Linked DNA regions of Homo sapiens: region 2 is linked to region 1. The links come from fine-mapping of genetic effects on gene expression. Tissue or cell type: tibial artery. Region 1 holds a variant in brackets; the other region holds the start of a gene. All regions are shown on one strand. Distances are from middle to middle.

The links. PIP is the estimated chance that this variant, and not a neighbour inherited with it, causes the effect.
Region 2: it holds the start of MKLN1, and the variant in region 1 is fine-mapped to the expression of MKLN1 in tibial artery (GTEx, PIP 0.98).

Annotation. Positions count from the first base shown.
Region 1 is chr7:131,573,481-131,583,821 of GRCh38, reverse strand. No RefSeq gene overlaps it. Among named protein-coding and RNA genes, the nearest start is that of PODXL, 22 kb to the right of the region's middle. RefSeq lists an enhancer at 1,509-2,113. The variant A/G (reference allele first, on the strand shown) is at 4,737.
Region 2 is chr7:131,322,130-131,332,470 of GRCh38, reverse strand. MKLN1 (muskelin 1) reads right to left here and starts at 4,595. Exons shown (of 18, transcript NM_013255.5): 1 at 4,474-4,595. The coding sequence starts at 4,571. It overlaps MKLN1-AS (MKLN1 antisense RNA), which reads left to right and starts at 4,692. Exons shown (of 6, transcript NR_125364.1): 1 at 4,692-4,856; 2 at 5,536-5,665; 3 at 8,046-8,168; 4 at 8,603-9,106. RefSeq lists enhancers at 3,677-4,253, 4,260-4,559, 4,254-4,830 and a silencer at 4,610-4,769.

The DNA of each region.
Region 1 (10,341 bases):
CCCAGGCTGGTCTCCAACTGCTGGGTTCAAAAGATCCTTCCACTTTCGCCTCCCAGAGTGCTGGGATTATAGATGTGAGCCACCATGGCCGGCCAATTCAGCCAATTTTAACTGAGCACTTTCTATGGACCGATGTGGCAGGTGCTGCCTCTGACCAGCCTCGACTCTTAGTTCCAACAGCATGAGTCACTCCTTCCACACACTTGGGCACAGACCCGGGAGGTCTTATAATGTGCCACATTACAGGCTTTGCGTCCCACCAACCATGTCACAAGCTCGAGGGCAACAACCTTGTCTCCTACGTCTTCTGTGTCCCCCATGGCCCTGGCTCCTCCACTTGGGAACTTCACAAACCACAGGCTCTCGATTTTTCATTTGGAAGACTAGCACAGGGTTGTCAACTTTTTATTTTATCAAACAAACACATTTTTTTCCTTTTTTTTTTTTTTTTTTTTTTGAGACAGAGTTTCACTCTTGTTGCCCAGGCTGGAGTGCAATGGTGTGATCTCGGCTCACCACAATCTCTGCCTCCTGGGCTCAAGCGATTCTCCTGCCTCAGCCTCCCAAGTAGCTGGGATTACAGGCATGTGCCACCACCCCCAGCTAATTTTGTATTTTTAGTAGAGACGGGGTTTCTCCATGTTGGTCAGGCTGGTCTCGAACTCCCTACCTCAGGTGACCCGCCCGCCTCGGCCTCCCAAATTGCTGGGATTACAGGCATGAGCCACCGCACCCGGCCCAAACAAACACATTTTTTAAATTACTGTGTTGTCATAAACAAAGTCACATTTTAACACTAAGAAAGGAGAAAGAACATAATCCTAGAATAAACTTTTGAAATAACGCTATACTGCTAAGCTTATTCAATTTCAAAAGTTGAATACACAACTTTATTTATTCAATTTCAAAAGTGGAATAAACAACTTTTGAAACTGAATAAGCTTAGCAGTATAGAAAAATTCAACATATTTTTCTTTTTCTTTGTTTCAGAAAATCTCAGAAAAAGAGGACAGTCTTTTCCATGGAATACATTTAGCAAGATGGAAGATTCATTACATGTCTTTTCTTTTTCAGTTCCCAGGGGACAGGTGACCACTTTATCAATGTCCATCCCAGCATTTGGGAGCCACTGTCGACAGCCCCTCACCAGGGCTGAGCACAGCTCAAGTGAGTGGAGTAGTCATTTGATCTCTTGCTTTGGTTATTGGCAGGGGAAGCTATCCTGAGTGTCCTCTCACCAGATCAGGACTGGGATCCAGGGACATGACTAGTCCAGGCAGTGCAGCGGATGACCCCACACCCAGCTGTCCATCCCCTTAGACTCTGTCTCAAACATTTGTCTTTTTTTTTTTTTTTTTTTTTTTTTTTTTTGAGACAGAGCCTTACTCTGTTGCCCAGGCTGGCTGGAGTACAATGGAGTGATCTTGGCTCACTGCAACTTCCGCCTCCTGGGTTCAAGCGATTCTCCTTCCGCAGCCTCCCAAGTAGCTGGGATTACAGGCATCCGCCACTATATCCAGCTAATGTTTGTATTTTTAGTAGAGACAGGGTTTCACCATGTTGGCCAGGCTGGTTTTGAACTGCTGACCTCAAGTGATCACCTGCCTCAGCCTCCCAAAGTGCTGTGATTACAGGTGTGAGCCACCCCACCCAGCCCATTTGTCCTGATTTTGTGCTCCTGGAAACTGGACTCTGTAGGCACGCAGGTGTTTGTGACACTCACTGCTTCCCACTCTTGGGCAGTGAAGCCCTTGAGTCTCAGAGGAGCCAGGAGGGAGGGGGCATCTGGAGTGGTGAACAGGAGCCGGAAGCAAATGAGTCCCAGACACAGACACCCCCACACCATGGCGGCACAGCTCCTGGGGTGAGAGCCCTGAGCTTCAGTCCCCTGCTGCTGGGGCTCTGCCCTCTCCTTTCCCTCTCTGAGTGGGGCCTCTTCAGGAGGGAAATGCAACCTAACTTTCCACTGCTCAGCCCTGCATCCCTGCAGCCGCTTCCAAAAAAAGCCATTGCTGCCTGGATGGGAGAGAGAGAGAGAATTTTTCCAAAGGATGTGTGTGTGCATTGTTGGGAGCAGCAAGCATTTCAGTGAACCCCGGGTCACAGCACAGCCTGACAAATGGCAGGAAGTTCAGGACTTGGGCCTGATAGTTTTTGCACAAAGGCCCCATAGCCCAGCCAGGTGAGCTGGGCCCGGGGACGGACACAGGGGCCACCACCCGGCACTTCCTGCCCTTTGTTGGCCCATGTGACAGCCTTCCCGGCGCTCCAAATGGCCTTTCTTTGGTGCCTGACTCCTGTGCTTTATTTATGGAGAGGAGCTCCTCAATATAGAAACGGGTGGGCCAGGAGCCGGCGGCAGGATGTGGGAATGCAGACTGGCAGGGTGCCCACCACCGGGGGCAGGGTTGCCGAATTAAAAGTATGTGGCCATAGACACCCAATAAGCCTGCCTGATATTTATATATCTGACAAGATGTTCCGCACGCTCCCCTGGCACATTTCAGGGAATCACAGCCTGTCCTGGCAGAAGGCCTCCCTGTGGCCCCACCCTTGGGTTCTCATGGCCTGGTTGGCCTCTGCCTGGGTGTGAGTCAGGTCACCTGCCCTGACCCTCCAAGGTTGCGTGGGCTTCTTGAAGGAAGGGGCCATTTCTTTCTACCATAGGATAACCTTTGTTGCTGGCATCCTGGGGGTCAGCTAGATACCTGGGATATGTATTTATGGGCAACAGTGCATGTAGGACCCTTTTATGCTCCCAATCTTTTCTTTGTTAGCATCATTTCTGGTGGAAATCTTCCCAAAGGCAACTACACATACCCCTACTGTCTCAGATAAGATACTTAGAACAGAATTTGCCCTTTTCTTGGAAATTTGGGGTCTCAGTTCTGAGTCCTGGGTGGAGAGGTAGAGAGAGCCCCGACCAGTTAGGTTTGAGATCCGGGCTCCCACGCTCACACTGCCTGGCTATCTGTGCAACCTGGAGCAAGTTTCTTTTCTTTTTGAGACAGAGTCTTGCTCTATCACCCAGGCTAGAGTACAGTGGCATGATCTCAGCTCACTGCAACCTCCGCCTCTCAGGTTCAAACAATTCTCTTGTCTCAGCCTCCGAAGTAGCTGGGATTACAGGCACACACACACACCTTGCAGAGGTTGGCCTGACAATACTGTTCATCTAATTCACATGTTCTGCAGTTCCATGATTTGTTTTGTACCATGTGGTCATGCAGTGATGTCAATACAAAAGTGATTGAGTTACACAAGGCCATTTATCCTCCACACTAACTCACAGCTGACTTTTTGAGTTCCCATGACCATTTTTGGTAGATTTCCTTCTTTCCTATCTTGACTTTAGGCTAATTTTTAAAAACTGATACTGTAGAGATGGGGTCTTGCTGTGTTGCCCAGGCTGGTCTCAAACTCCCGGGCTCAAGCAATCTTCCCAACTTGGCCTCCCAAAGTGCTGGGATTACAGGCATGAGCCACTGCGCCCGGCCTAGGCCAATTTTAGACCATTGTTTATGGATCCATCCACAGCAGCAACTCTTTCTCTTTCAAGTTTGTGACTTCTTGATCTGCTATAACTATATGCAAATCAAGTATGAACAGCTAAGAGTAAACATGTAAATGCACAGATTTATGTGTGTACTTGAGGCATAATTCTGACTAATCAATGACTTTGTGTTTCCTTTCTAATTCTTACTTTTTTTTGTTTGTTGGTTTGTTGGTTTTTTTTTTTTTTTTTGAGACGGAGTCTCGCTCTCTTGCCCAGGCTGGAGTGCAGTGGCACAATCTCGGCTCACTGCAACCACCACCTTCCAGGTTCAAGCGATTCTCCCGCCTCAGCCTCCCAAGTAGCTGGGATCATAGGTGCTTGCCACCATGCCCAGCTAATTTTTGTATTTTTAGTAGAGACGGGGTTTCGTCATGTTGACCAGGCTGGTCTCGAACTCCTGACCTCAGGTGATCTGCACGCCTCGGCCTCCCAAAGTGCTGGGATTACAGGTGTGAGCCACCGCGCCTAGCCTTTTTTTTTTTTTTTTTTTTTGAGATAGAGTCTTACTCTGTCACCCAGGCTGGAGTGCAGTGGTGCAATCTCTGCTCACTGCAAACTCCGCCTCCAGGTTCCAGTGATTCTCCTGCCTCAGCCTCCCAAGTTGCTTGGATTACAGGTGCCTACCACGACACGTGGCTAATTTTTGTCTTTTTAGTCAAGACAAGGTTTTACCATATTGGCCAGGCTGGTCTCGAACTCCTGACCTCAAGTGATCCACCCACCTTGACCTCCTAAAGTGCTGGGATTACAGGTATAAGCCACCACGCCAGGCCCCTTTCCTAACGTTTGACCCTATTGTGGAGAAAGGAAGTTGTCAGAAAGCCAAAAGCACCCAGCGTGGTGGCTCATGCCTGTAATCCCAGCATTTTAGGAGGCCAAGGTGGGCAGATCACCTGAGGTTAGGAGTTCGAGACCAGCCTGGCCAACACAGTGAAAGCCCCATCTACTAAGAATACAAAAGTTAGCTGGGTGCAGTGGTGTGTGCCTGTAACCCCTGCTACTCCGGAGGCTGAGACAGGAGAATTGCTTGAACCTGGGAGACGGAGGTTGCAGTGAGCCAAGATCGTACCACTGCACTCTAGCCTGGGCAACAGAGCAAGACTCCATCTAAAAAAAAAAAAAAGTCGAAAGCACAATGAGGTACTACTGTACCTTGCTAATATACCTCTATTATACCTTT[A/G]TAGAACACAGCAGGAACTTAATAAATTATTGTTGAATGGGATATCCTCCCTTTCTACTAAAAAATTCACTGAGGGTATCAGTCTGCCTCATCCAAGTTTATTTCTGAGCAAAGGTGTGAAGTGTGAAGCAGACTAGGCCTGCATGCTTGTTTCACAAAACCCTGCTCCTCTGTCCTCTTCCTACAAAACATAACATTCCTTTCCCTTCCTCACAGCCTCCATGCCCCTCTTACATGGAGCCCCAGCCCATTATTCCCATGGAAGGAAAGGGATGAGGTAATTAGATTATCCTTCCTTCTCAGAAGGCAATTTGGAAGCCCCAGACGTCTCTAGAGGCCACACAGAGGCATTTCAGGAAGGTGATGCTGAAAAGATGATAATAACTGTGCCAGGTGTGGTGATTTACACCTGTAATCCCAGCAGTTTCGAAGGCCAAGGCGGACAGAACCCTTGAGTTTGGGGCCAGCCTGACCAACATGGTGAAACCCCGTCTCTACCAAAAAGTACAAAAGTTATCCGGGCATGGTGGCACAAGCCTGTAGTCCCATCTACTCAGGAGGCTAAGGCAGGAGAATCACTTGAACCCGGGAGGTGGAGGTTGCAGTGAGCTAAGATCGCACCACTGCACTCCAGCCTGGGTGACAGAGTGAGACCCTGTCTCAGAAAAAAAAAAAAAAAAAAAAGAAAGAAAAGAAAAGAAAAAAAGATAATAACTAACATTTGCACAGGCTTGGAAATTCACAGAGCATTCCACATGCTAGTGTCACCTAATTCGCTACCCCATCCTGAGATGGTATTGCCCGCATATGACAGGCCAGGTAGAGTTGAGCTATTTTCCAGGATGAATTTTCCGGCCAGGAATTTTCTCAGTGTCTCCACCCATCTTAGCTGGAAGGAAGCCAGGATGGTGGGAGATGGTGTTGCTGGGGAGTCAGGGGTGGTCACCTCCTTCTACGAGGTAAAGACAGAGCTATCCTTGAGTGGAGAGAAAAAGCGAGGAGGAGGCAGGAGGCACCAATCTCGGCGTCTGAAGTAAGACCGTAACTTCCTTATTAGAACAAGGTAATTAGCTGTAGGTTCTGGCTGACTTTGCCATCAGAGTACACTGGGACAAACCTGGGATTTGGGATCAGAAGACTTGAGCTGGACTGGAGCCCTGGCAGCCTTAACTGTCTCACCCTGGAGAAACTTAAACTCTCTGCGCTGCCTGTCAATTCCCTTGTCTACAAAAGGAGAATGATAACAGCAACCATAAAACAACAACAACAACAACACAACGGCAGCAGCGACAATACAGCCACAGCAGCAACAATACTTGCTCTCATTCTTCTTCATAAGGTCAGTATGAAGATCAAGTGGGTCCGTGCCCATGGAAATGCCCCTACGACATAAACCACAATATTCTAGCAGGTTGTCCTTGGTTTTCACTCATCCCACAGATATTAATTGAGCACTTACTATGCTCTGGGCCCTGAGTTAAGCCCTGAGAATTCAATGAAGAAAGAAATGGAAAGGTATCCCCAGTGTTTGTCCTCATAGGATCAACTACTTCATTTCTCCACGACCCTCTGCTTTGGAACCACTAGGCTGTGGAGCAGGGTGGGCCGCCTCTTTGGACATCAGTGTCATTATCTGTTGTAATTGTTGCTGTAAGAATTAAGTGACTTTGGCCGGACGCGGTGGCTCACACCTGTAATCCCAGCACTTTGATAGGTCGAGGCAGGCGGATCACCTGAGGTCAGGAGTTCAAGACCAGCCTGGCCAACAGCAAAACCCCATCTCTACTAAAAAAACACAAAAATTAGCTAGGCATGGTGGCAGGTGCCTGTAATCCTAGCTACTTGGAAGGCTGAGGCAGGAAGAATTGTTTGAATCTGGGAGGCAGAGGTTGCAGTGAACTGAGATCATGCCACTGTACTCCAGCCTGGGTTACAAGCGAGACTCCATCTCAAAAAAAAAAAAGTATTAAGTGACTTAATTTATATGAAACATCTACATGTGACTTAATGCCTGTCACAGAAGAGACACTCAATGATTGTTAGCTTTTTCTCTAAAAGTGTCCTTCAAGATCACACCTCTCTCTCTGAACAAGAAGACTTAGTCACTGACTAAAATACCTTCCTGTGCTCAATGCAGATGGCTAAGACATTTCAAGGCTCTGCTGCTCCATGGAGCTCTGAGCTTTAAAGCATTCCATCCACCTTGGTCGTGAGCACGCTCTGTGCTTTGCCCTCCAAATAGACCTAGAGCTCCTGGAAGGTAGGGACCCACCCACCCAGCCTGGTTCTCCTCCTGTGGTGGGCCCAGGAAGGGACTAGCAACCTGTCCGCTCTCAAGTCAGTGAGAATGCACTCACAGCTCTAGTTCTGTGGACTTCCCTTCTGGCTTGCCACTGAAGTGTGAAGTGTTCTGAGAGCAAGGCCAGGAAGGGTCAGGAAGAGCCTCTGACACTCACAGTTAAGGAAGGATAATTTAATAGTCTTAGGAACAGTCATTATTCTATTTTCTCTGACAAAACCAGTCCAGGTATGAAAAACCAGCCACAGTCGGGCGCGGTGGCTCACACCTGTAATCCAGCACTTTGGGAGGGTGAGGTGGGTGGATCACTCGAGGTCAGCAGTTTGAGACCAACCTGGCCAAAATGGTGAAACCCCGTCTCTACTAAAAATAATTACAAAAATCAGCTGGGCATGGTGGCGCATGCCTGTAATCCCAGCTACTCAGGAGGCTGAGGCATGAGAATTGCTTAAACCCAGGAGGCAGAGGTTGCTGTGAGCTGAAATCATGTCACTGCCCTCCAGCCTGGGTGATACAGTGAGACTCCGTCTCAAAAAAAAAAAAAAAGAAAAACCAGCCACAAAGATTGTGAACTGGACACTATTCTCTGGCTCCCTTCTCCCAGCTTGTAGAGCCCACCTCAACCCTAGGGAGTGTCCCATGTAAGAACATGGTTCTCCAGTCTGGCCACAACCTCCTGCCCTCCTGCCATGGTTCCAGGCCCAGATGGCTTATCTGTGCTAGTTAGGAAAAGGCACTGCATGTTCTGGGCAGGCCAAGCCCACACCAGGGCACAATCAACCTCATCAGTCAAGGCAGCCCTCCCAGCTCCTGCAGTGATGGCAGCCACTAGGTGCCATTGATGTGGAAGCCTGCAGGGCTACCCTGACCTCGATGGAGCTTCTGGCCATCACAGCCTGGGCCACTGAGGCCACCAAGCCTTCTCACTCCTCAGTAGAGATGTTACTCAAGCATATCTTTTTTTTTTTTTTTTGAGACAGAGTCTTGCTCTGTCACCCAGGCTGGAGTGCAGTGGCACAACCTCGGCTCACTGCAACCTCTGTCTCCCAGGTTCAAGCACTTCTCCCACCTCAGCCTCCTGAGTAGCTGGGATTACAGGCACCTGCCACCATGCCCAGCTAATTTTTGTATTTTTAGTAGAGACAGAGTTTCACTATGTTGGTCAGGCTGGTCTCAAACTCCTGACCCCAGGCAATCCACTCGCCTCGGCCTCCCAAAGTGCTGGGATTTGCAGGCGTGAGCCACCGTGCCTGGCCCTTTTTTTAAAGACAGGGTCTCCTGTCATCCAGCCTTGCCCTCCCAGGCTGAAATGATCCTCCCATCTCAGCCTCCCCAGTAGGTGGGACTACAGACATGCACCACCATGCATGGCTAATTTTTTTTTTTTTTTTGAGACAGAGTCTCGCTCAGTTGCCCAGGCTGGAGTGCAGTGGCTCGATCTCCGCTCACTGCAAGCTCCGTCTCCTGGGTTCACACCATTCTCCTGCCTCAGCCTCCTGAGTAGCTGGGACTACAGGTGCCCATCACCACGCCCAGCTAATTATTTTGTATTTTTTTTTAGTAGAGACGGGGTTTCACCATGTTAGCCAGGATGGTCGTGATCTCCTGACCTCATGATCCACCCTTCTCGGCCTCCCAAGGTGCTGGGATTACACATGCATGGCTAATTTTTAAAAAAATTTTTTGTAGAGATGGGGTCTCCCTGTGTTGACCAGGCTGGTCTCGAACTCCTGGACTCAAGCGATCCACCCACCTTGGCCTCCCAAAGTGCTGGGATTACAAGCGTGAACCACTGCGCCTGGCATCAAGTTCGTCATCTTGTTTTTATTTCCTCTATGATTCAGTCTTCTCGCTCTGGGAGCTGGGCCACAGGATAGCCTGGGAAATAGACACTTTCTGGCCTCAAGAGTTGAATCTTCTCTCTGTCCTTGGCCTATTGTTCTAGAACCTGAGAGAGTGTGACTCTCTCATTCCTTAGGGCTAATTCTCTGCCCAAAGGCTTTTGAACTCTCCATGCAGCTCCATGCAGGTAAAGGGCTCTATGCAGGTAAAGGAAGCCCTTTGATAGACCTGAGCCCCGATGGAAACACAGCCTCATTTTAAACTGGACTGTAAATAAACAGTCATCCTCGACATCTCAAGATGCTTTCGTCTAATTGCCCTTCCATGCGTGAATGCCCACCTTTGGGGCCTCTGGTGAACCCTTCACTCATAGGTCCTCCTGGGGAATCCATTTCATTTTTTACATTGCTTTCATTGATGAAAAGTTCATTCCACAGATCCGTTCCAAAGTCCCAGATCCGGCCCTCAATTCTGGGGACAAGCCAGACCCGGTCTCTGCTCACAAGGAGCTTAAATTTAAGCAGGAATGGAAGGCGGAGAGATCTCAGGGAGCATATAAATTATGATGAGAAGGTCGGGTGCGGTGGCTGCCCCCTGCAATCCCAGCACTTTGGGAGGCCAAGGCGGGAGGATGGCTTGAGCCCAGGAGTTGGCAATCAGCCCAGGCAACATAGGGAGACCCTATCTCTATAAAAAATAAAAATAAATTAGCCAGGCATAGTGGCACACACCCAATGGTCCCAGCCCCACGAGAGGCTGAGGTGGGAGGATGGCTTGAGCCCAGGAGGTCAAGGCTGCAGTGAGCTGTGATTATATTACTGCACACCAGCCTGGGCAACAGAGTGAGACCCTGTCTCAACAAACGAACAAACAAACAAGCAAACAAAAAAGCACAATGGACATTGATTGTCTCACAGTTCTGGAGGCTAGAAGTCTGAGTGCAGGGTGTGGGCAATGTTGATTCTGGCTTGGGTCTCTGGGGGAGAATCTGTTCCAGAGCTCTCTCCTGGTTCCTGGTGATGGCCAGTGATCCTAGGCGTCCCTAGGCTGTAGGTGCGTCACCCCAGTCTCTGCCTCCATCTTCACATGGCCATCTTCTCTCTGTGTGCCTCTCTCTGAGTCTCCACATGGGATTTTCCTCTCTGTATCTTCTCTTCTTTTTTTTTTTGAGACAGAGTCTCCCTCTGTTGCCCAGGCCAGAGTGCAGTGGCATGATCTCGGCTCACTGCAACCTCCGCCTCCCATGTTCAAGCAATTCTCCCACCTCAGCCTCCCAAGTAGCTGGGATTACAGGCGTGCACCACCACACCTGTAATTTTTGTATTTTAGTAGAGACGGGGTTTCACCATGTTGGCCAGGTTGGTCTCGAACTACTGACCTCAGGTGATCTGCCCACCTCAGCCTCCCAAAGTGCTGGGATAACAGGTATGAGCCACCATGCCCGGCCCTTCTCCTCTTCTTATA
Region 2 (10,341 bases), 250 kb after region 1:
TATATTTTAATATATATGATATAAAAAGTGTCTATTTTTTTCTTAGACATGGGGTATTGACGAGATGCTGTCTTTTTCTTTTGTAGAGACAAAGAAGAAAAGAATATATATATATTTACATATTTTTAACATAATAATATATAACTATGCACATATATTTTATGTAATAAAAATATATAAATATTTATATATTTTTTTTCTTTTGTAGAGATGGGGTATGTTTCCCAGGCTGGTCTCAAACTCCTGGTCTCAAGTGATGGTCCTGCCTCAGCCTCCCAAAGTGCTAGGATTACAGGCATGAGCCACCGTGCCTAGCCTATATTCATTTTTAAATGTGAAATTTTAAAATTAGTTTTGAAAAGAGTTGAAATAAATTCACCTTCTATTCTAGTTGTCAAATCATAACACTTGTACTCTGAACCATGAATCAATCACATGTTGACACAAGGTACTATTTTAAGTACTATTTGATTTTAAGTAATAAGACTAACAGGAAAAAGGTAAACACACTTAAAAATCTATCAGATTTTATCATCTAAATTATCTAAGTCATTCAATAATATGTAAACAAGATAAGAATCATTCTATACCAATGAAATTACCTAATATGTAAAAAATACTTTCAAAGTTTCTCCCAGTTCTCATATGAGTATACTAAAATCTTAAACATCAAGATAAAATCTATTTTTCCCTCTCTTGCTGTTCTAACCTTAGAGCGCTTATCTGTAATCTCAATTAGACATATACAATAGCCATGTATAATAATGAACAGCTTTCGTAACAGAAGTCAAAAGGCCCAATATGAGAACCTTATCACCTACATTTTCTTCCTCCTCATCATTATTATTATTGCAGATGGGGTCTCATTGTGTTGCCCATGCTGGTCTCAAACTCCTGGGCACAAGTGATCCTCCTGCCTTGGCCTCCCAAAGTGCAGGGATTACAGGTGTGAGCCACCCTGCCCTGCCCCTCTTACATTTTCAACTCTTAGACCTGGGCAAGTTAACTTACCTCCCTAAATCTCACTTTTCCTAGCTCTAAAATAGAATAATAATATTTATCTCATAGGGTTTTTGTGAAGACTATTATATCAAAGAACACATGCTAAATGCTCAGTACAGTGCCTGAAGAATAGAAAGTACTCAATAAGTGGTGACTGTTATTAAAGTCACAATGCAATAGTTTTTAAGTCAGAAAACCTGGCAAGCCTCTGGAAAACTATATGACCCTGGGCAAGCTACTTACCCTGTATGGACCTCAGTTTCATCCTCCACAAAACATATATAAAATACCTATCTTACAGGTATGTACCAAGAATTAAACAAAACTGTATACAAAAAGCATCTTGCATATATTAGGTGCTCACTAAATTGTAACTAGCATCATTATTAGATACAAAAATAAACATTTGAGTACAGGGATTAGCAGTTTACAAAATATTTTTATGTATAAGAGTATATGTAATTTTATGAATTATTTAAATAAGTGTATTTAATTATTAAATTAGGTGTAAATTTCAGAAAAAAAGTAAAATACAGGCAATCTCTAAGCACACAAAAATAAAAGGCCTTTTTTTAGTCTCAAAGTAAAAATGTGTTCCCTATAACTGAATCTGCTTTAACATTTTTAAAGTCCAAATAAATTAAAAAGAGTTGAAAGGGGAAATATTTGTTTTTTCTGCCTCTGGAAGAAGGGGAAAAGAATTCTAAGTCCTTAGAAAGAAAATAGAGATAAAATTGTTCAATTTTTTTTAATGACTTCACATTTCTTTACACAACTAAAATGTAAGTGCCTTTAATACAAGAGCTCTTTTAAAGTTCTGATTTCCTGTACTATATATACCTTTGTGCAGAAGCAGTAAAACACTATAGTTAAAGACCACAGACTGTGGAGCCTGACTACCTTGATTCAAATTCTGGTTCCATCTAGCTGTGTGACCTTAGGCAAGTTTAAACTTCTCCCTACCTGCTTCCAACATCTGGCAAACGGAGATTCCTCTTGGGATTGCGGTAAGGATTAAATGAGTTGATACACTTAAAAATGTTCATAAGAGAGCCTAGCAAATGGACGGCACATCATAAATGTTTACCATTTTTGTTACTGATTTATTACTGCCACCTCGAAATGCTTAGATCTATGCCAACAAATATTTGCCACTTTGTGGACAATTTCAACAAATGTCTTTAACCTAAAATGAGACCTGTTTAAGAAGTACCTTAATATGGTTTCCACTGCCAGTAAAGATACAACAATTGCTGCTAGAGGGGATTTTAGGGCAAAGGTAAGTAAAGTCAACCCCTTTCCTACATCTTCTGTCACACAGAGAAGTAATATCCTTGCTTGCTTATAGAAGTTCAGAGCCAAGAGTTTTATAATTTAGGCATGGCACACACCAACCCAGCAGACACAATATTCTCCAACTCCAGCTCCATAATACTCAACTATACTCCTTCAAAGAAAAAAGCTTAGATTACTCTTCTAATACTTTACTTTAAATACAAATTATACTGCATTTGTCAATAGAATGTCATAAGGATTAAACAAGATATAGTAAGTGGAAGTGTATGAAAGTTACGTATGTATTAAATACTATTTTATGTATGTACTTGAGAAAATTGCAGCAATGTATTTCTCCAATCTCAAATTGTTGCTTTCTAACTCCAAAACTAGTGTTCTGCCCACTGCAAACCAGGGGCCAGAGTAACAAGACACAAAAGATTAAAGTTGCCATCCCACTAAATCATTTCCTGCTTGAAATGTACTTTCTTAAAATGTCTATACAACAGATAACGCGGATGGTACTTGTGTTATCCAAGCCTCAGGCCTACATCAAAAATTTAAGGAGTGACGTCCTGGAAATACGCTAATTCAAGACCAGAAAAATGTCTCTACAGTTAGATCAAACAATGCCACACCAATTCCCAACTGTCCATAATCCTAGCCTGGGTATAGAAAAAAGCTGAATAACTTCAGATCCAAGAACAAGATAGCCCAGAATATCAGAGGTCAAGTACATAGGGCCACATTTCAACTCCAACTACATGGCTGGACTGTTTATCTGGCTCACTCTCAAATTCAAAGTTGGGTTTCAGCATCAATCAGGGATATGGCCATGAATAGGCTACGCAGGCCAGATCAAACCACAGGTCACTTGGCACCCTTCATTGGGCCAGATCCTACTGAATGCCAACCCTTGACCTGGTGAATAAAATGGGAGGCTGGCAGTCATGACAGATTCTTCCAGTTGCAGCTCCATTTTGAGATTCTTCATTGATATAACCAGTGAAATCAAATTTGGATAAATGTGAAGAATTTCTCAAATACAGATGGAAAACTTACTTGAGTATGCTTCACAGATCTAGTCACTTTTTTGTTTAGTAAAATACTCAGTAAAATATATTATTCATTAATTTGTTTCGTTCATAAAATCGTTTCGGTCCTGTGAGATGGTTAGAGGGACAACTAGCACTTTTCTTCAGGATCTGCACAGATCTTAACCCTTTACTAAGCCAGTTCCTCCACTAGCATGTAAAATTGGAGTTAGATCTGCTCCTCCTTTCAAAGATAAGCCAAAGATAAATAAGATACTATGTAAGAGTATTTTCAGCATTTCAGAAGGAATTTGCTAGAGAAAAAAACACCACCAACAAAAACCTAACAATGCAACTGAATTTTTTTAACACCTAAATCAGGGATCAAGACAAAGCCGGTGTTGAAAATCAAATTCATTAAAGCCAGATGTTTCTATGTTTGAGTTTCCGGACTGGGAAACGTGTCTGTGTCCATACAAACCCATCTTCTAATGAGCCGTAATACTGAAATTCTTCGGTAACGTCCCTCCTTCCCACTCCCTATCTTTTTCAGAACTTCCAGGCATTAAAGACAACGTCTGCCAATCCTACAAGTTCTCCCCGCCTGCTAGGATTCAGATGGATTCCACAACTTTTCAGCCTTCCGTGACTTTTAACACTACTCTAGAGCTAATCACTTTTAATGACCCCACTCTGGAATAGACACTCCTCGGCTTTACACTTTGTCCCGGCAGCAATCGACTGAACTGTCCCCCGACGCCGACCACCTCGGACGACCTCAGACATTCGGGGTAGTTTGCCCGCGGGCAGGGCCCCGCCAACTCCGATTCCTGCCCCAGAGCCGTCCGCCCCCCAAGCCCTCCTCAACCTCAACCCCCAAATCCCAAGCGCAGAACCGCTGGGCTTCCGGTTCTCCTGTGCGCGCCCCGGATCCGCCACACACCTCGCCCCTTCTCCCTGGGCTCGCTCTCCGGACCCTAACCCCTTCCCGAGCGAGGCCGAGCAACGCTCTCAGCAGCTGAACTAAGACTCCGGAGGCCGCACGTCCCCCTCAGCAGGCCCCGCCTGGGCCTCTCGGCTCGGCTGCCCTCCATTGCACCCCTGGCCCAACCGTGCTGACGCGGAAGGGTGGGGCAGCACGAGCTCAAGGCCCGGCACTTACTCGGGAAGGTAGGTGGAGGAAAAGGAGCTCCACTTGTGTAGCGCGTAGGGGAGAAGCCGGCACTCGGGCGCCGCAGCGACAGCTCCGCCAGCCGCCATCTTGTCAGCACCGTAGCGGCCGCCACCGACCGCTGGCAGCGAACGGGAGGAGGGGAGGGGGCGTGGCCTGCTCTTAAAGGGGCCGCCGCCCTCCCCGGCCGCCCGCGCTCCCCGCCCCGCATCGTTACCCGAGCCCAGCGCCGGGCCAATGTCCTATCTCAGGGTTTCCCACGTCGCTCGCTCCTTGACGGCTGACCGACACTGGGTCTGAGGTGTAAGCGCTTTCCAGGCCCTTCCCTGGGGCTTGGAGGGGAATGGCGCAAAGGACTTTTCTTACAAGCAGAGGTAAGGAAAAGCCGAGATGATTACGAACAGAAACACGTTGTAGTTATGGAGCAGGAAGGGAAAATAAGAAGACCAAGTTGGAAAAGGGACGCCTGTGCGCTTTTGGAAGCCACCGCCCTCGCCAGTTTATAAGTCCTTTACGGAAACAACACTGAAGGGAGCTGGAGGGCAGTAGCTAATGTGCTGTCCTCCTGGAGTGGTCCTGGTTTTAAATGTCTTGTCCCCGCCTTCCAGAGTCAGATGGAGACAGGAAAAGGAAATGGTCCCGTGTCCTCCTACCCTGTTTGGTTTGCAGTCTGTGATGCCCTTCATTGTAAACATTTCTTGTGAGCCGCATCCTACTAATCTTGTGGCATTGGTTTGCTCGGGAATGACGTTCACCCACAGACCTGAAAAGTCCTTACAGAGTTGGGAAGCTGCGTGTCATCATTTTTTCAGTTGGCAAATCTGCCCACTTTGAACTGACATAATTGTAGCCTAAAAGTTCAGAGAGAGAGTAGTTCAGGAAAAAGACTATTCCTTCTTCTTAGAGGGAACAGCAGCCCTGAAAACTATGTGGACATCATACCAGCTTCTTACAACAAAAGGTGCACTTGGTCTAAATTATCTGGCAGCTCTAGATAACGTTCTCATCAAGTACCTGTTTGTTGTAGTTATGCATATTTATTCCTTGGCTTAGCCACTGCAGTTACCAAAGAGTATGTCGCTTATTGTCTAAGAGGTTGGACTCCTGAAAGCCTGGACAGTGTCATCATCTTCACCTGAAGAGTGGAAAAATTCAAGCAAAGAGTTTCTCAGGAAATGACCAAGTGAGTCAAAACACCTCAATAATTGTATTCTCTTCCCGTTGTAATCATTAACCTGCCGAAATTCCCTCCAGTCCTTTCCTGACTTCCTGTTTCTATAGATGGAAATTTTAATAGTGGGCTCTACTAGGATATCAAATCAAAAAAGCCAGATAGAAAGGCCAGGCCCGGCACGGTGGCTCACACCTGTAATCCCAGCACGTTGGGAGGCTGAGGTGGGTGGATCACCTGAGGTCAGGAGTTCGAAACCAGCGTGGCCAACATGGTGAAACCCCGTCTCTACTAAAAATACAAAAGTTAGCTGCGTGTGGTGACATACACCTATAATCTCAGCTACTTGGGAGGCCGAGGCACAAGAATCACTTGAACCCAGGAGGCAGAGGTTGCAGTGAGCCAAGATCACACCACTGCACTCCAGCCTGGGCAACAGAGTGAAATTCTGTCTCAGAAAAACAAATAAAATACAATAAAATAAAAAATTACATGTGCTTTCTGTGTTGCAGCAGGTTGGAAAAGCATGTGTTCCTTAAGGGAATGCTGTAACTGTAGTGACTTGGGTCGGGAGCTGCCAGAGACAGTGGGAAAGGGCCAGAGAATGTTAGCCCCAGAGATGATATAGTGGTTATCTTTGAAGAAAATAGACACTTTAAAGGGGAGGAATTAACTCACTCCAATTCCTTTGGGCCCCAGATTTTATAATTCCACTTCTTACCTTAATGTAAGTCAAGTCCTTGTTCTTTTCCAGACATAGTTCCTGAGCAATCTTTTTTAAAAACACATGTTAATTAGTTCTTCTTAAGCTTAAATCCTTTTGGTGACTTTCAATACCCTTCTAAACTGTTTAACAGAGGCCCTTCATAACCTGCCTTGATTTTTCTCTCCAGCTTCCTCACCACCACCCCCCCCCCACTTTTCTCCTTTGCGCTTTTGACATCTGCCCACTAACTAGCACACTGAATTTGTTCCCATAGAGTCCTTGTTCTCTCTAGCCTCCGGAGCTTGCTCTAAGCCAGGCATGGAATATTCTTTCCCATTCTTTACCTGGCTAACTCCAGCTCATCCTGTAGACTGTTTGGTCCTGGAAATTTTTTTGGTTTTTTTTTTTTGAGACAGAATCTCACTCTGACTCTGTCACCCAGGATGGAGTGCAGTCACATGAACATGACTCACTGCAGCCTTGACCTCCTGGGTTTAAAGGATCATGCTGCCTCAGCCTCCCATGTAGGTGGGACCACAGGCAGACATCACCACACCAAGCTACTTTTTAAATTTTTTTGTAGACACAGGGTTTCACTCTGTTGCCCAGGCTGGTCTTGAACTCCTGGGCTCAAGCGATCCTCCTGCCTCGGCCTGGCCTCCCAAAGTGCTGGGATTACAGGTATGAGCCACTGCGTCTGGCCGAAAATCTTTCTTCAACACCTGCTCTGGGATTAGGTGACAGTTTTCTTCATTTTTTTTTTCCTATGCAAGCTAACACAGGATAGGTAACATTTTTTACATTTCTCTTAGCACTCTAAGTTTCCCTCTTTATCTTAGCACACATCACAATATATTTTAATTTTCTCTTTTTTCCCCTTTCTTTCTCTCTAAATGATAGCTCCCATGAAGATAAGAGTCATACATATCTTGTTCACAGTTGTATCCTCAGTCCTGTTGATGTGTCTAGCAAATAAAGATGTTCAGTAAATATTTATCAAAGAGTGAATGAATAATGCTAAAAGAGAACTTTAATTAGAGACTTCTGAGTTGCAAAGGAAAAAAAAAATGCCAGCACTTCTCAGACTACAAACGTGTATCCCTGAGGTATAATTGCTACTCAGAAGGTAAAGACCCAGGATAGCATGGCTTTCCTGCATCACAAATTTTATAAATGGTAAAATAATTTAAAGCATTCCTATGTTAACATACAGACAGCTATATTATGATACCAAGACGAAAATTTGTTTAAATGTTAAGAAAAGAACTTTATCTGAGGAATGCAAATCCTTTTAAATTATGAGGCCCAGAGAGGCATTAAAGTGAAACAGCAATCCTGTCCTTCTCCCCCACTTTTGAACTGTGTATTTGTCTCTTGAAACTGCTTACTATTGCCACAGAAGCTAAACATTAACCTACTAATTAATGCTGCACCAGACATTATAACCCTCATCCTATAGTTTCATAATGTATAGCCAATCAGTAGCTTGATTTATTTTAATGTAAATTCTTGGTAAATAACTCAGGCACTGCCTCATCTTTCCCTTTAAAAATCCACTTGTAACTGCTGCTACTCAGAGTGTATATTCAAGGCAACCTGAATCTATGTTCCCAGGTTGCAGTCATCAAGCTTGGCCCAAATAAACTCCCAACTTATATTAATTTTGCCTCCGCTTCTTCCTTTTAGGTAAAACATCTGGAGTAAGTCAGCAGGATTCACAGTGACTCCCCCCAACCAGCTGGTGGTGTTTCTCTCTGAAAGCAGCGCTTGGTACCAGTGTGAACTCTCTTCCTTCAGAAGTCTCATCAGGTGTTTCAGATGAGTTCTCCGGAATTTGGACCTCCTACTCTTGGGTTGAAGGTCTAGACTTTATTTGGGCTGTTTTTCAAACCCTTTCTTTAAGTGTGAGGGCTTCGGTCTCTGTCTTTGGACAGAAGATTCGGGTATAGAGCTCTGCAGGGAACTGCCTTTTTTCCCTCTCTGTCTTACAGCAGAGGTGCAGGTCATGGTTTTTCTGCCTCTGCCTCAGAACCAGGGGTTTGGGTCAAGTTTTTTTCACCTCTGTCTCACAGCAGAGGTTTGAGTGAAAGAACTGGCAGTTAGGCACCAGTGGTTTCATTTTATATCGTATGTGTTTGAGATAGCAGTTGTTTACTATCACTTGAAAATTCTGAATTAGTCTTTAATTTTAACTAATTCCTGTTAGTTCCTAACTGAAATGTGTACCCCTTTTGCTCTTCCAGGTGGACGTAATACGAGGGTCTGGTCCCCCATACCTTGAGGACTCCGCTGCCATCTGACAATTACAGACAATCCAATTGTCCTCATCCTTGAGGACTCTGCTGCCATCTGACAATTAGAGACAGTCCAAAACATGCCACACTTTGATCCTAAACACATTCCTGGCTTTGGTCACTTTTGAAAAGTTCCTGAGTTATGAGAAATCAATAATAAGAGTGTTCAAAACCTGAACACTCTTTTTAGAAATACCTGCTGGAACTACATATATGATTTATGGGGTACTGTCTTGTAGTATCTGGGAAAGTAGACCCATCTAACCTGGAATGATCATAGGCAACAATGACCAAAAATGGGGATCTTTTGATATACCTAAAGTAATTTATTTGTGCACACCATTGGAAAGAGCTGGTTTTAGAACCAGACATGTAAATAAGAGACTGACTTCCACTGGCACCTAAAAACTTCTAAAAGAAATCCTGAAAGAAAAAGTCACCTTCATTCAAGAGGTAAACAAAGGGATATTTGAAACTATGTTAAAAGACTTCAGAGGCTTTCTCCCTTTCACCTCCAGACCCTCCTTTTCCTTCCAGCCCTGTGATCTGAACTCATCCCTTTCTGCCGCTTCTCTTGGCTTCCATACATCTCTTAGGCAGAGATGTTTTAAAATTTCACAATGTACACATTTCCTTCTCTCAGGGGAAATGAATTTAAATTTAGAGCAGAAGGAACAAGCAGAACAACAACAGAATGGGAATAAGACTGCTGAGACTATAAAAATGCAGATCCAACAAAATTTTTTCTCACCAGGTCTAGTGAATGACACTGTGATATGGTCTGGCTCTGTGTTCCCAACAAAATGTCATCTCGAATTGTAATCCCCACGTGTCGGGGGAGAAGCCTGGTGGGAGATGATTGGATCATGGAGGCAGTTTCCCCCATGCTGTTTTCATGATAGGGAGGGAGTTCTTACGAGATGTGATGGTTTAAAAGTGTTTGGCAGTGGCCGGGCGCGGTGGCTCACGCCTGTAATCCCAGCACTTTGGGAGGCCGAGGCGGGTGGATCATGAGGTCAGGAGATCGAGACCATCCTGGCTAACAAGGTGAAACCCCGTCTCTACTAAAAATACAAAAAATTAGCCGGGCGCGGTGGCGGGCGCCTGTAGTCCCAGCTACTCGGGAGGCTGAGGCAGGAGAATGGCGTGAACCCGGGAAGCGGAGCTTGCAGTGAGCCGAGATTGCGCCACTGCAGTCCGCAGTCCGGCCTGGGCGACAGAGCGAGACTCCGTCTCAAAAAAAAAAAAAAAAAAAAAAAAGTGTTTGGCAGTTCCCTTTCTGGCTTTCTCTCTCCTACTGCCTTGTGAAGAAGGTGCTTGCTTCTCCTTCACCTTCCACCCTGATTTTAAGTTTCCTGAGGCCTCCCCAGCCATGTAGAACTGTGAGTCAATTAAACCAATTTTATTTATAAATTATCCGGTCTCAGGTAGTTCTTTATAGCAGTGTGAGAATGAACTAATACACACTGATTTATTGACCCACTGTGAGACAGTACCCTTTAAATCTTATCATGTCTTTAAAATGCTAACATTCAGGGAATTAGCTAAGCAGCATTCCAGATGAGATCAGATCTAAGACAAGATAAAATCCTTAAATGCTTAAACTGCCTGCTTTGGATTCCCTGCAAAATTTACCAAAAAACAAACACACAAACAAAAAAATGAAAACAAAAACAAAGAAAACACCC